Regions from separate parts of the Homo sapiens genome. Here region 1 is linked to region 2. The links come from fine-mapping of genetic effects on gene expression. A gene starts in region 2. The other region holds a variant in brackets. All regions are shown on one strand. Distances are from middle to middle. Region 1 overlaps TMEM41B (transmembrane protein 41B). Region 2 holds the start of TMEM41B (transmembrane protein 41B).

What was found. PIP is the estimated chance that this variant, and not a neighbour inherited with it, causes the effect.
Region 1: its variant is the best candidate, but not a certain one, in a credible set for the expression of TMEM41B in naive CD4 T cells (Schmiedel 2018, PIP 0.75).

Annotation. Positions count from the first base shown.
Region 1 is chr11:9,291,873-9,297,251 of GRCh38, forward strand. It overlaps TMEM41B (transmembrane protein 41B), which reads right to left. Exons shown (of 7, transcript NM_015012.4): 3 at 3,387-3,515. Among named protein-coding and RNA genes, the nearest start is that of TRL-CAA5-1, 19 kb to the left of the region's middle. The variant CAAAAA/C (reference allele first, on the strand shown) is at 2,308.
Region 2 is chr11:9,312,683-9,318,061 of GRCh38, forward strand. It overlaps TMEM41B (transmembrane protein 41B), which reads right to left and starts at 1,911. Exons shown (of 7, transcript NM_015012.4): 1 at 1,639-1,911. The coding sequence starts at 1,759. RefSeq lists enhancers at 1,102-1,619, 1,620-2,135 and a silencer at 1,901-2,250.

The DNA.
Region 1 (5,379 bases), 21 kb before region 2:
AATTTTTGTATTTTTAGTAGAGACAGGGTTTCACCATCTTGGTCAGGTTGGTCTTGAACTCCAGACCTCGTGATCCACCTGCCTCGGCCTCCCAAAGTACTGGAATTATAGGTGTTAGCCACCGTGCCTGGCCTCCTTTTCTTTTTAACATAAATATGATACCATTGTCAGACTTCAAGAAATTAACTATAATTCCTTATTGTCCTAAAGACTAGTCTGATCAGAATCTAGAAGTCCACACAAAGTATTTGCTCAAAGGATCACTTAAGCATAGGGTCTTTATTTTTTCTTTCTTTCAATTTACTGAAGAAACCAGATCATTTGTAGAATTTACCATTTATTGAATTTTGCCTATTGGATACTTAGGGTAGTTTATGTTCTATCCTTTATCTTATACTAGTAGTCAAAACTATGCTTCCTTTTAAATGGGAATGTGACTTGAGCTTAACTTTGTTTAGATTTCTCTTCTCTTACACTGAAAAATCTTGGTTCTTGATAACACCAACATAGTTGCCTATTTGTGCTTTATATACTATGAAACATAAAGTAAATGTATAAAATATATACTATGCATTAGTATTAATAATCTAAAACGTTTCCACATATTTAAATATTTTACAACATTATTACTACTAACAATATGATGACTAAAAACAGTTTTAAGATTTTTGGCTAGGCCTGGTGACTCACACCTGTAATCCCAGCACCTTGGGAGGCTGAGGTGGGAGGATCACTTGAGCCCAAGAGTTCCAGTTCGAGACCAGCCTGGGCAACATGATGAAATCCCATCGCTACAAAAAAATACATGAAGAGACGGGATTTCTTCATGTTGGTCAGGCTGGTCTTGAACTCCCAAACTCAGGTGATCAGCCTGCCTCGGTCTCCCAAAGTGCTGGGATTATAGGTGTGAGCCACCACACCCGGCCCTGATAATACTATTCTTAATTTTTGAGGAACTGCCATACTATTTTCCATAGTAGCTGCATCATTTTGCATTCCCACCAACAGTGCTCAAGAGTTCCAATTTCTCCACATCCTTGCCAACACTTGTTATTTTCATGATAGCCATCCTAATGAGTGTGAGGTTGCTTTTGATTCTTAAGATTCCTGCTATTCTCTTTTTTCATTTTGATTTTGTAATTATGTAAAACATTTACTTGGTTCTCAAGTCAAACCTACGCTAAGAAAAGTTTCAGTCCTACCATTTTATCTCTCTCCCTACAGGTAAACATTTTTACTGGTTTATTTATTTGAGATACAGTCTCACTGTCACCTAGGCTGGAGTGCAGAGGCTAAATGCTTCGCTGTAGCCTCAACTTCCCTGGGCTCAGGTGATCTTCCCACCTCAGCCTCCCAAGTAGCTAGGACTACAGGCATGTACCAAGACATCCAGCTAATTTTTGTATTTCTCGTAGAAACTGGGTCTAGCTACATTGCCCAAGCCAGTCTCGAACCACTGGCCTCACGCAATCCTCCTGCTGAAGCCTCCCAAAGTGCTGGGATTACAGGAATGAGCCACTACACCCGGCCAATTAGTTTTTTAAGAAAAATATAACAAGATACTTATGTATATGAGTGTACTCATATTATCCCCTTCTTAGATAAAACACAGCATATTTGTGTACTATTTTGCCCTTTGTTCTTTCACTTATCTGTATATTGTGAGTTAATACCTCAACAACATATGGATACTTCTGATTCTTTTTATTTTTGTTATTTTTATTTTTTGGGGATGGAATCTTGCTGTCACCAAGGCTGGAGTGCAGTGGCACGATCTCAGCTCACTGCAACCTCCACCTCCTGGGTTCAGGTGATCCTCCTGCCTCAGCCTCCTGAGTAGTTGGGATTACAGGCATGCAATCACCACGCCCAGCTAATTTTTGTATTTTTAGTAAAGATGGCGTTTCACTATGTTGGCCAGGCTGGTCTGAACCCCTGACCTCACGTGATTCACCCGCCTCGGGCTCCCAAAGTGCTGGTGTTGCAGGCATGAGCCACCATACCTGGCTACTTCTGATTCTTTTTAAATAGCTATATAATATCCCAGTGTTGTCAGGCGTGGCGGCTCATGACTGAAATCCCAGCACTTTGGGAGGCTGAGGAGCTCAGGAGTTCAACACCAGCCCAGACAACATAGCAAAACCTGGCATCTACAAATAAATCCCAAATTTAACTGGGTGTGCCTGTGGTTCCAGCTACTCGGGAGGCTGAGGTGGGAGGATCACTTGAGCCCAGGAGGCTGAGGCTGCAGTGAGCCATGATCATGCCACTGCACTCCAGCCTGGGTGACAGGGGGAGAACCTGTCT[CAAAAA/C]AAAAAAAAAAAAAAAAAAAAAAAAAAAAGCCGGGCACAGTGGCTCTCACCTGTAATCCCAGCACTTTGGGAGGCTGAGATGGGCAGATCACCTGAGGTCAGGGGTTCCAGACGACCCTGGCCAACATGGTGAAACTCCGTCTCTACTGAAAATACAAAAATTAACCAAGTATGGCGGCAGGCGCCTGCAATCCCAGCTACTTGGGAGGCTGAGACTGGAGAATCGCTTGAACCTAGGAGGTGGAGGTTGCAGTGACCAGAGATTGTGCCTCCAGCCTGTGTAACAAGAGCAAAACTCCATCTCAAAAAAAAAAAAAAAAAGTTGGTTTAAAAAGGATGATTACTTTTACAACATCAAGAAGTAAATTACGTCTTTCATTAACTGAGAAGATCTGGAAAACAGTTTGGATAAGAATAAAAGATATTAACAAATCAGAAATGAAAATTAAACTCCACAATATGCAAAATTAAGCACCCACAGCTAAGCAGTTTGAAATAAAGCTATTTTCCTGACTAGTTAAAATGTAATATATTTCTATAAAATATATATCAAAAATTGTAAAAAACATTCATTCCTTTGAATAAGTATCTTAAGAATTTTTACAAAAGAAACAATGCAAGAAAAAAACATGAACAAAGGAGATTCATAATACATATCTATAAAAATTAACAACAAATTATACCTCCAAACCTAACAGAACAATTATAAAAATACTATGGTGACTACTAATTCAAAATAATTATATAAACTAGTATCATCAGTTAATGAATACAATTATAAATCAAACCCATAAAATAAACATCTTAATAATATGCAATAAAGGAAAATGTTTGGTAAGTGAAAAAAGCAGAATACAAAAGAACTTCTAATAAATATTCAGACATAAAAACAATTAGTTCAGCAAATAGGATTAAAGTGATAATTTTTTTCCATTTTAATTTTTCAATTATTTAATATTGTCACACTGCAATAACAAATTTTAAAAGGAAAATAGTTATGTATAAATGAAGAGCAGACCTTTTACACTTTTTCTTGAACAAAATTAGAAAACATTTTTTCAGTTAAAAGGATACAAAATATATGTAGCAAAATAAGCTACAAGTACTTGAACATAAAAGGTGTCCTTGTATTTGGATAAAACTTTTCCTAGAGCCTTGGCATCATCCATATCTCTGGGAACCTTCATATTCACTCTTTCTTCTCTGAAGAAATAAAGTGAAAAATTTTAGAACAGAATTTTGCCAAGATAATATCAAAGTCAAGTTCACAACATGAAGTTTTATCCAAAATGATTTCATGCCTTGATCTATTAAGTCTAAATTAGCAATGTTTAAGTTTAAAAGTTTATAATTTTTCTTTTGTTTTGAGACATAGAGTCTTGCTCTGTTGCCCAGGCTGCAGTGCAGTGGTGGAATCTCAGCTCACGGCAATCTCTGCCTCCCAGGTACAAACGATTCTCCTGCCTCAGCCTTCTGAGAAGCTGGGATCACAGGCGTGCACCACCATGCCCAGCTAACTTTTGTATTTTTAGTAGAGAGGGAGTTTCACCATGTTGCCAGGCTGGTCTCAAACTCCTGTGCTCAAATGATCCTCCTGCCTCGGCCTCCCAAAGTGCTGGGATTACAGGAGTGAGCAACCGCACCTGGCCTATAAATTATTATTAATTTCATTTTATTTTTATTATTTTTTTTGACACAGTCTCACTCTGTTGCCCAGGCTGGAGTGCATTGGCGCGATCTCGGCTCAGTGCAACCTCCACCTCCTGGATTCAGGTGAGTTTCCTGCCTCAGTCTCCCAAGTAGCTGGGATTACAGGCACGTCCCACCATGCCTGACTAATTTTTGTATTTTTAGTAGAGACGGGGTTTCACCATGTTGGCCAGGCTGGTCTCAAATTCCTGACCTTAGGTGATCCACCCGCCTTGGCCTCCCAACGTGCTGGGATTACAGGAGTAAGCCACCATGCCCGGCTATAAATTATTTTTTAATGCTTTAATATAATTTCATGAGACAGGCAATTTTTTCTTTTTAATGTCTCAGCAGAATCAGAGACAGGTAATTTATATATGAAGGCTCTGGATGACGCAAACCAAGGGTTAAAGGCATTTGTTCCAACATCGAAACAAATTTTAACTTGAATATAAGAAATGAACCACTGGCCAGGCACATGGTGGCTCACGCCTGTAACCCCAGCACTTTGGGAAGCCGAGGCGGGTGGATCGCCTGACATGAGGAGTTCGAGACCAGCCTGGCAAACGTGTTGAAACCCCGTCTCTACTAAAAATACAAAAATTAGCTGGGCATGGTGGTGCATGCCTGTAATCCCAGCTACTCAGGAGGCTGGGGCAGGACAATCACTTGAACCCGGGAGGCAGAGGCTGCAGTGAGCCTCCAGCCTGGGCAACAGAGACTCCGTCTCAAAAAAAAAAAAAAAAAAAAGAAAGAAAGAAAAAAAGAACCACTGATGTTAGTAAATTAAAAACATTTAACATCATTTTGGGTAATCCTGATGATAAACTAAATAATAATTTACAATGAAAATTAAGTAAAAATGTAACAAATTCACAGTTCAAACATTTTCTTGAATACCACAGATCAAAGTCCACAAAAAACTGCAAGTTTTCCAGTACTTTTACTCTATATTTGGCACTTTGTTTGGAACTGAATGATTTCTTGCTTAGGAAAGCCTCGAATAATCACCTTTGTGTTTCATGCATATTATGATCATTTCTTTTTTTTTGTTTGTTCTATAGGCAGGCTCCCATGCTCTGTCACCCAGGCTGGATGGAGTGCAATGGCACGATCATAGCTCAATATTACCTCCATCTCCTAGGTTCAAGTGATCCTCCCACCTCAGACTACTGAGTAGCTGGGACTGCAGGCACGTGCCACTATGCTCTGCTAGTTGTTGTTTTTTTTAGATAGAGTCCTGCTCTGTCGCCCAGGTTGGAGTGCAGTGGCGTGATCTCGGCCCACTGCAAGCTCCGCCTCCCAGGTTCACGCCATTCTCCTGCCTCGGCCTCCCAAGTAGCTGGGACTACGGGCGCCCGCCACCACGCCCAGCTAA
Region 2 (5,379 bases):
ATCAACAGGTCAGGAGATCGAGACCATCCTGGCTAACAAGGTGAAACCCCATCTCTACTAAAAATACAAAAATTAGCCCGGCGTGGTGGTGGGCGCCTGTAGTCCCAGCTACTCGGGAGGCTGAGGCAGGAGAATGGCGTGAACCCAGGAGGCGGAGCTTGCAGTGAGCCAAGATTGCGCCACTGCACTCCAGCCTGGGTGACAGACCGAGACTCCGTCTCAAAAAAAAAAAAAAAAAAAAGAATAATTGTGTTGAATGTTTTGTTGTAATGATAAAATAAGATTAAAAAGTAAGAGCACTTTGGAAGTTTCAAGGTTTTATTTTTTGAATAGCTTTAGGTAAAAATCATGAATACAACTGGCTGCTACCTCAAATGAGATGTCAATTTTTAGGGATGCCCTATCTGGAACACTTTTTCAGGAAACCCAGACCTTGGAATATTGTCACCCTCAGTAGTAGAGTCTTCAAAACAATCTTTCTTTTATTCAGAGCTGATTTATACATTAACAACGATTCATTTCTCAGTTTTTGAAATTATATGAAGTCACCTGGATCCAGTGTATATAAGCTGGAAAAATACCCAAAAACATAAGGCTGACAGAGCCAAATTAGACTGTTGGAGACATTTTAAATTATTTGAAAATACATTAACATTTTCTACTACATACTCTTAGAAGTTCTCCTAGCCATCACTGGTGGTGGAACACACCTATGTGAGCTACAGACAAACTTGTTAGGATCACTTTAAGTTTATGAGCTTTAAAATCATTTAAAGAACGATTCCAGGCCAACACGGAATCAAAGTATTTAGTTTCTACGTACAGTTTTTTCCTTAAAACAATATTTAAAGCCGTGAGATTCTGCAATTATAGAGGCAGTAGGAATAAAGAGAAAACAAAAACCAAAAATAAAGCCGTGAGAAATGTCAGGATGATGTAGTGGGGAAATAAACTTTAGAATGAGTGACCTTAGCTGTAACTAAGTAATTGCTAATATTTATTTAGCCCCCACTTCATATCCAAGCATTGCTCTAAATCTTTTACGTGAATTATTTCGTTTAACCCACGCACCACCTATTAAGTAGATATTATTATTATCCCCATTTCACAGTTCAGACACTGAGCTTTTTTTGAAAGTTACCAAGTCCAAGGTTCCAAGTAAACAGTAGGGCAGGGACTCAAGCCCAGGTGTACTGCCACCTGGAAGTATTAAGTCCTCGCTCCTAACTACTACTTCACTGATCTGGCTTTATGACTTTATAAGTCATATACCCACACTGGGCCTCAGTTTCTTCATCTGTAAAAACAACGCAGCGAATGCCACAGTACAGCTCCTTCCAGCTCTGCCTAGCGTCGTTATCATCAACCTTACAATCTACCTGAGCGTCAACAAGCCAGTGTCATCCCTTCTTTTAAATGAATTCTACTCAAACAGCATTTACAACGCACCTACTCGGCGTCCGGCCTTGTGCTGCGCGAGCGCCCAAGCCCAACTCCCCCACGGTCTCTGCTCCCGCCGCGGCGCCAGCAGGCCCCCCTCTTTCCCCGCGACTCTCCGAGAATAGCGGGGGTCCTTTTCCCCACCCGACACACAGAAGCCTCGGGCCACCCCCAGCTCTGCTCCCCGGGCCCACTCACCCTTCTGGTGGTCTCTGCTGCCAGGCGCCGCGAGACCCCGCGTCCCCGCTGCCCCGTCCCCCACGGGGGTCGTGTGGTGAGCGCCCAACTGCGATCGTTCGGCGACTCTGCCTTTCGCCATGGCTGCTGCAAGGTGAAGGGAGCGGTGCGGTGCCGCGCCCCCTAAACAACAAAACTCTGTTGCAGGCTCCTTACTACGCCGAAGCGCCACGGCTAGAGCCACTTCCGGCGCGACCTCCTCACCCGAGACGACCTCAGCCCAGCGAGTACTGCAACCTCCTGCAAACACCCGCAGCGCCCACCACAGGCTAAACCCCGCCCCGTGCCGCCCCCGAGCCTCGCGTGCTCGCGCCGGCCCAGTAACCGCGAGACAAGTCAGGGTCCTGGACCGCCCCCTTCAGTGCCCCGCCCCGGCCCGCCCGCGGGAAAGAGGTGGCCGCCGGGCGCTGGGGCGAGAGCATGCGCAGTCGCGGCACTCGAGTCACCCGGCTGCGACTCGCTGGCCCTGGCGTCTAAAGCGTAGCCTTAATTACCCGGAAGTGCGGTCCCAGGGACTTCAAACCTTTTGTCCAGGCCGCCGGAGGTGCCTGTGATTAGTCGGCATTTCGCGGCTGAGGCTGATTCAGCCCATTACATCAATTCCGCAGCTGCTGTCTTCAATTTGGAGGCGCCAGAGAGTGCTTGATCTAAAAGATGGTGGGAAATACAAAGGTTGAGCAAAACCTACCTGAATTTCAGGAAACTAAGGCTCAGAGAGGGCTACGTACAACCTGTGAAGATCACAGGATGGCAAAAATGGGCTTAGAATCCAGGTTGTCCTGTTCCCAAAGCTAACGGTTTTGCATTAGCTGCTGCCCCTTACTACTAAACCCAAGTCAGCTCTACATTTAGCTTATCCCTAAGCTAAGCGGAAACATGCCTTTTCCACAGGTAACTTTTTCTGCTTCTACCCCTCAGAGCACATTCAGCTTACTCACCGTGGTTACCTCTTGAAAGCAACTTAGAGGCCGGTCGCGGTGGCTCAAGCCTGTAATCCCAACACTTTGGGAGGCCAAGGCGGGCGGATCATTTGAGACCAGGAGTGTGAGGCCAGACTGGCCAAAATGGTGAGATGAGACCCCGTCTCTGCTAAAAATACAAAAATGAGCTGGACATGATGGCTTGTAATCCCAGCTACTCGAGAGTGTGAGTCAGGAGAATCGCTTGAACCCCGGAGGCTGAGGTTGCGGTGAGAAATTGCACCGCTGCACTCCAGCATAGACCACAAAGCAAGACTCCGTCCCAAAAAAAAAAAAAAAAAATCCTGATTGTTTCTATTCAGTAATTACATTTGTAGGAAATTATTCCATGAAAATAAACATAAATAATTCCTCTGTATTAGTATAACAGTGAAAAACTAAAAGCAATATAAAAATCCAACACTAAATAAAAATGGTTAAGTAAATTATGGGAAACCCATTCAATTGAACTGTTTTATGTACACATCCTTTGCCTACTTCTGGCTCCCATTTTATTTCCTTCATAGTCATTAAAAGCAATTAATTCTGTGAACTATTTGTTTACTTGTTTATTGTCTGCCTCCACCTTTAGAATATAAGCTTTAAGGCAGGGGCTTTGTCTTTTTGTTTTTTGTTTTTTTAAGTGATGGGAATCTCACTATATTGTCCAGGCTGGATCTGAACTTCTGGACTCAAGGGATCCTCAAGCATCAGCCCTCTGAGTAGCTGGGACTACAGGCTCCATGCTATGGCTCCCAGCTGGGCTTTGTCTTTTTGATCACCATTGTATCCCCGGTAGCTGACAGAGTGCCAATACCTAAGTGGCCATTCAATGAATTTGTTGAATAATTTTTTTTTTTGAGATGGTGCCCAGCCGAATAAATTTTCAATCTTAGGAAATTATATTTATGGGCCAGGTGCCATGGCTTACACCTGTAATTTCAGCACTTTGGGAGACCAAGGTGGGCGGATCACCTTGAGGTCGGGAGTTCAAGTCAAAAAAAAAAAAAAGAAAACATTTTATATATTTTACTATGCAAACATTAAAAATTGAAGTACAACAAAAACTAAAAACAAACACTGAGAAGTATTTGACACATAAGAATTACTACAAATCAGTAAGGAAAGCACAACTCAACAGAAAAATGGGCAAAGAATATGAATTATCAACACACAGAAGAAAAAATTAAATGTGCTTAAGACATCTGAGTGCGCAGTGGGAAAGCCAACTCCAAAACTTAGGAAATTCCAAAAAATTAGGAAAAGATGAACAACCTCAGTGCAGTGTGATAAGAGTGACTGAGGGGTGCGCAGATTGCAATAGCAGAAGAGAGGAATATCTAAATTACAGTGGGGCTGTAAAGTCTCCCAGGAAGCAGGATTAAAACTGATTTTTAGAGGATGAATAGGAATTAACAAAGTTGAAAGCAGAGAAAATAGCTTTTGCAAAGGCTAGAAGCTACTGCTTATATTAGAAAAAAAGCTTCAAGCAAAGGGTGGGAGAATGGAAAGAAATGCTACGAAAGATATGAGACCAGGACCTTATCACAAACTGCTAAAAGTTTGAACTTAATCCTCAAAGATATTTAACCAGAGAGGGACTTAGTAAGATTTGTATTTTTGGCCGGGCACATTGGCTCACCCCTGTAATCCCAGCACTTTGGGAGGCTGAGATGGTTGGATCACCTGAGGTCAGGAGTTCAAGACCAGTTTGAAAACCCGTCTCTACTAAAAGTACAAAAAATTAGCTGGGTGTGGCCGGGTGTGGTGGCTCACGCCTGTAATCCCAGCACTTTGGGAGGCCGAGGTGGGCGGATCACGAGGTGGGGAGATCAAGACCATCCTGGCTAATATGGTGAAACCCCGTCTCTACTAAAAATACAAAGAATTATCCGGGCGTGGTGGCAGGCGCCTGTAATCCCAGCTACTCAGGAGGCTGAGGCAGGAGAATGGTGTGAACCCAGGAGGCAGAGCTTGCACTGAGCCGAGATCGCGACACTGCACTCCAGCCTGGGTGACAGAGCAGGACTCCATCTCAAAAAAAAAAAAAAAAAAAAAAAAAAAAAAAAAAAAGCTGGGCGTGGCAGCGGGCGCCTGTAATCCCAGCTACCCGGGAGGCTGAGGTAGGAGAATCGCTTGAACCAGGGAGGTAGAGGTTCCAGTGAGCTGGGATCGTGCCATTGCACTCCAGCCAGGGCAACAAGTGTGAAACTCCGTCTCAAAAAAAAGATTTGAATTTTCAAAGCTTATTCTGACCGCCTTATGGAAGTGTGCCAAATCAACAGCAGAAAGAGAAGTTAGGAGATTACTGCAATAATCCTGGCCTGACCTAGCATAGTGTACTGGAGACAAAAAGAAGATACCAGATATAAGATTATGTATGAGAAGAACTATCTCTAAACTTTTATTACTTTAATTACATGAATATATACATAGTCATTCCAGACAAAATTTTTTTTTTTTTTGAGATGGAGTTTCACTCTTATTGCCACGCTGGAGTGCAATGGCATGATCTTGGCTCGCGGAAACCTCCGCCTCCCAGTTCAAGCGATTTTCCTGCCTCAGCCTCCCAAGTAGCTGGGATTACAGACATGTGCTACCACGCCCGGCTAATTTTGTATTTTTAGTAGAGGGGGGTTTCTCCATGTTGATCAGGCTGGTCTCGAACTCCCGACCTCAGGTGATCTGCCCACCTCGGCCTCCCAGTGCTGGGATTACAGCCGTGAGCCACCACGCCCCAGCC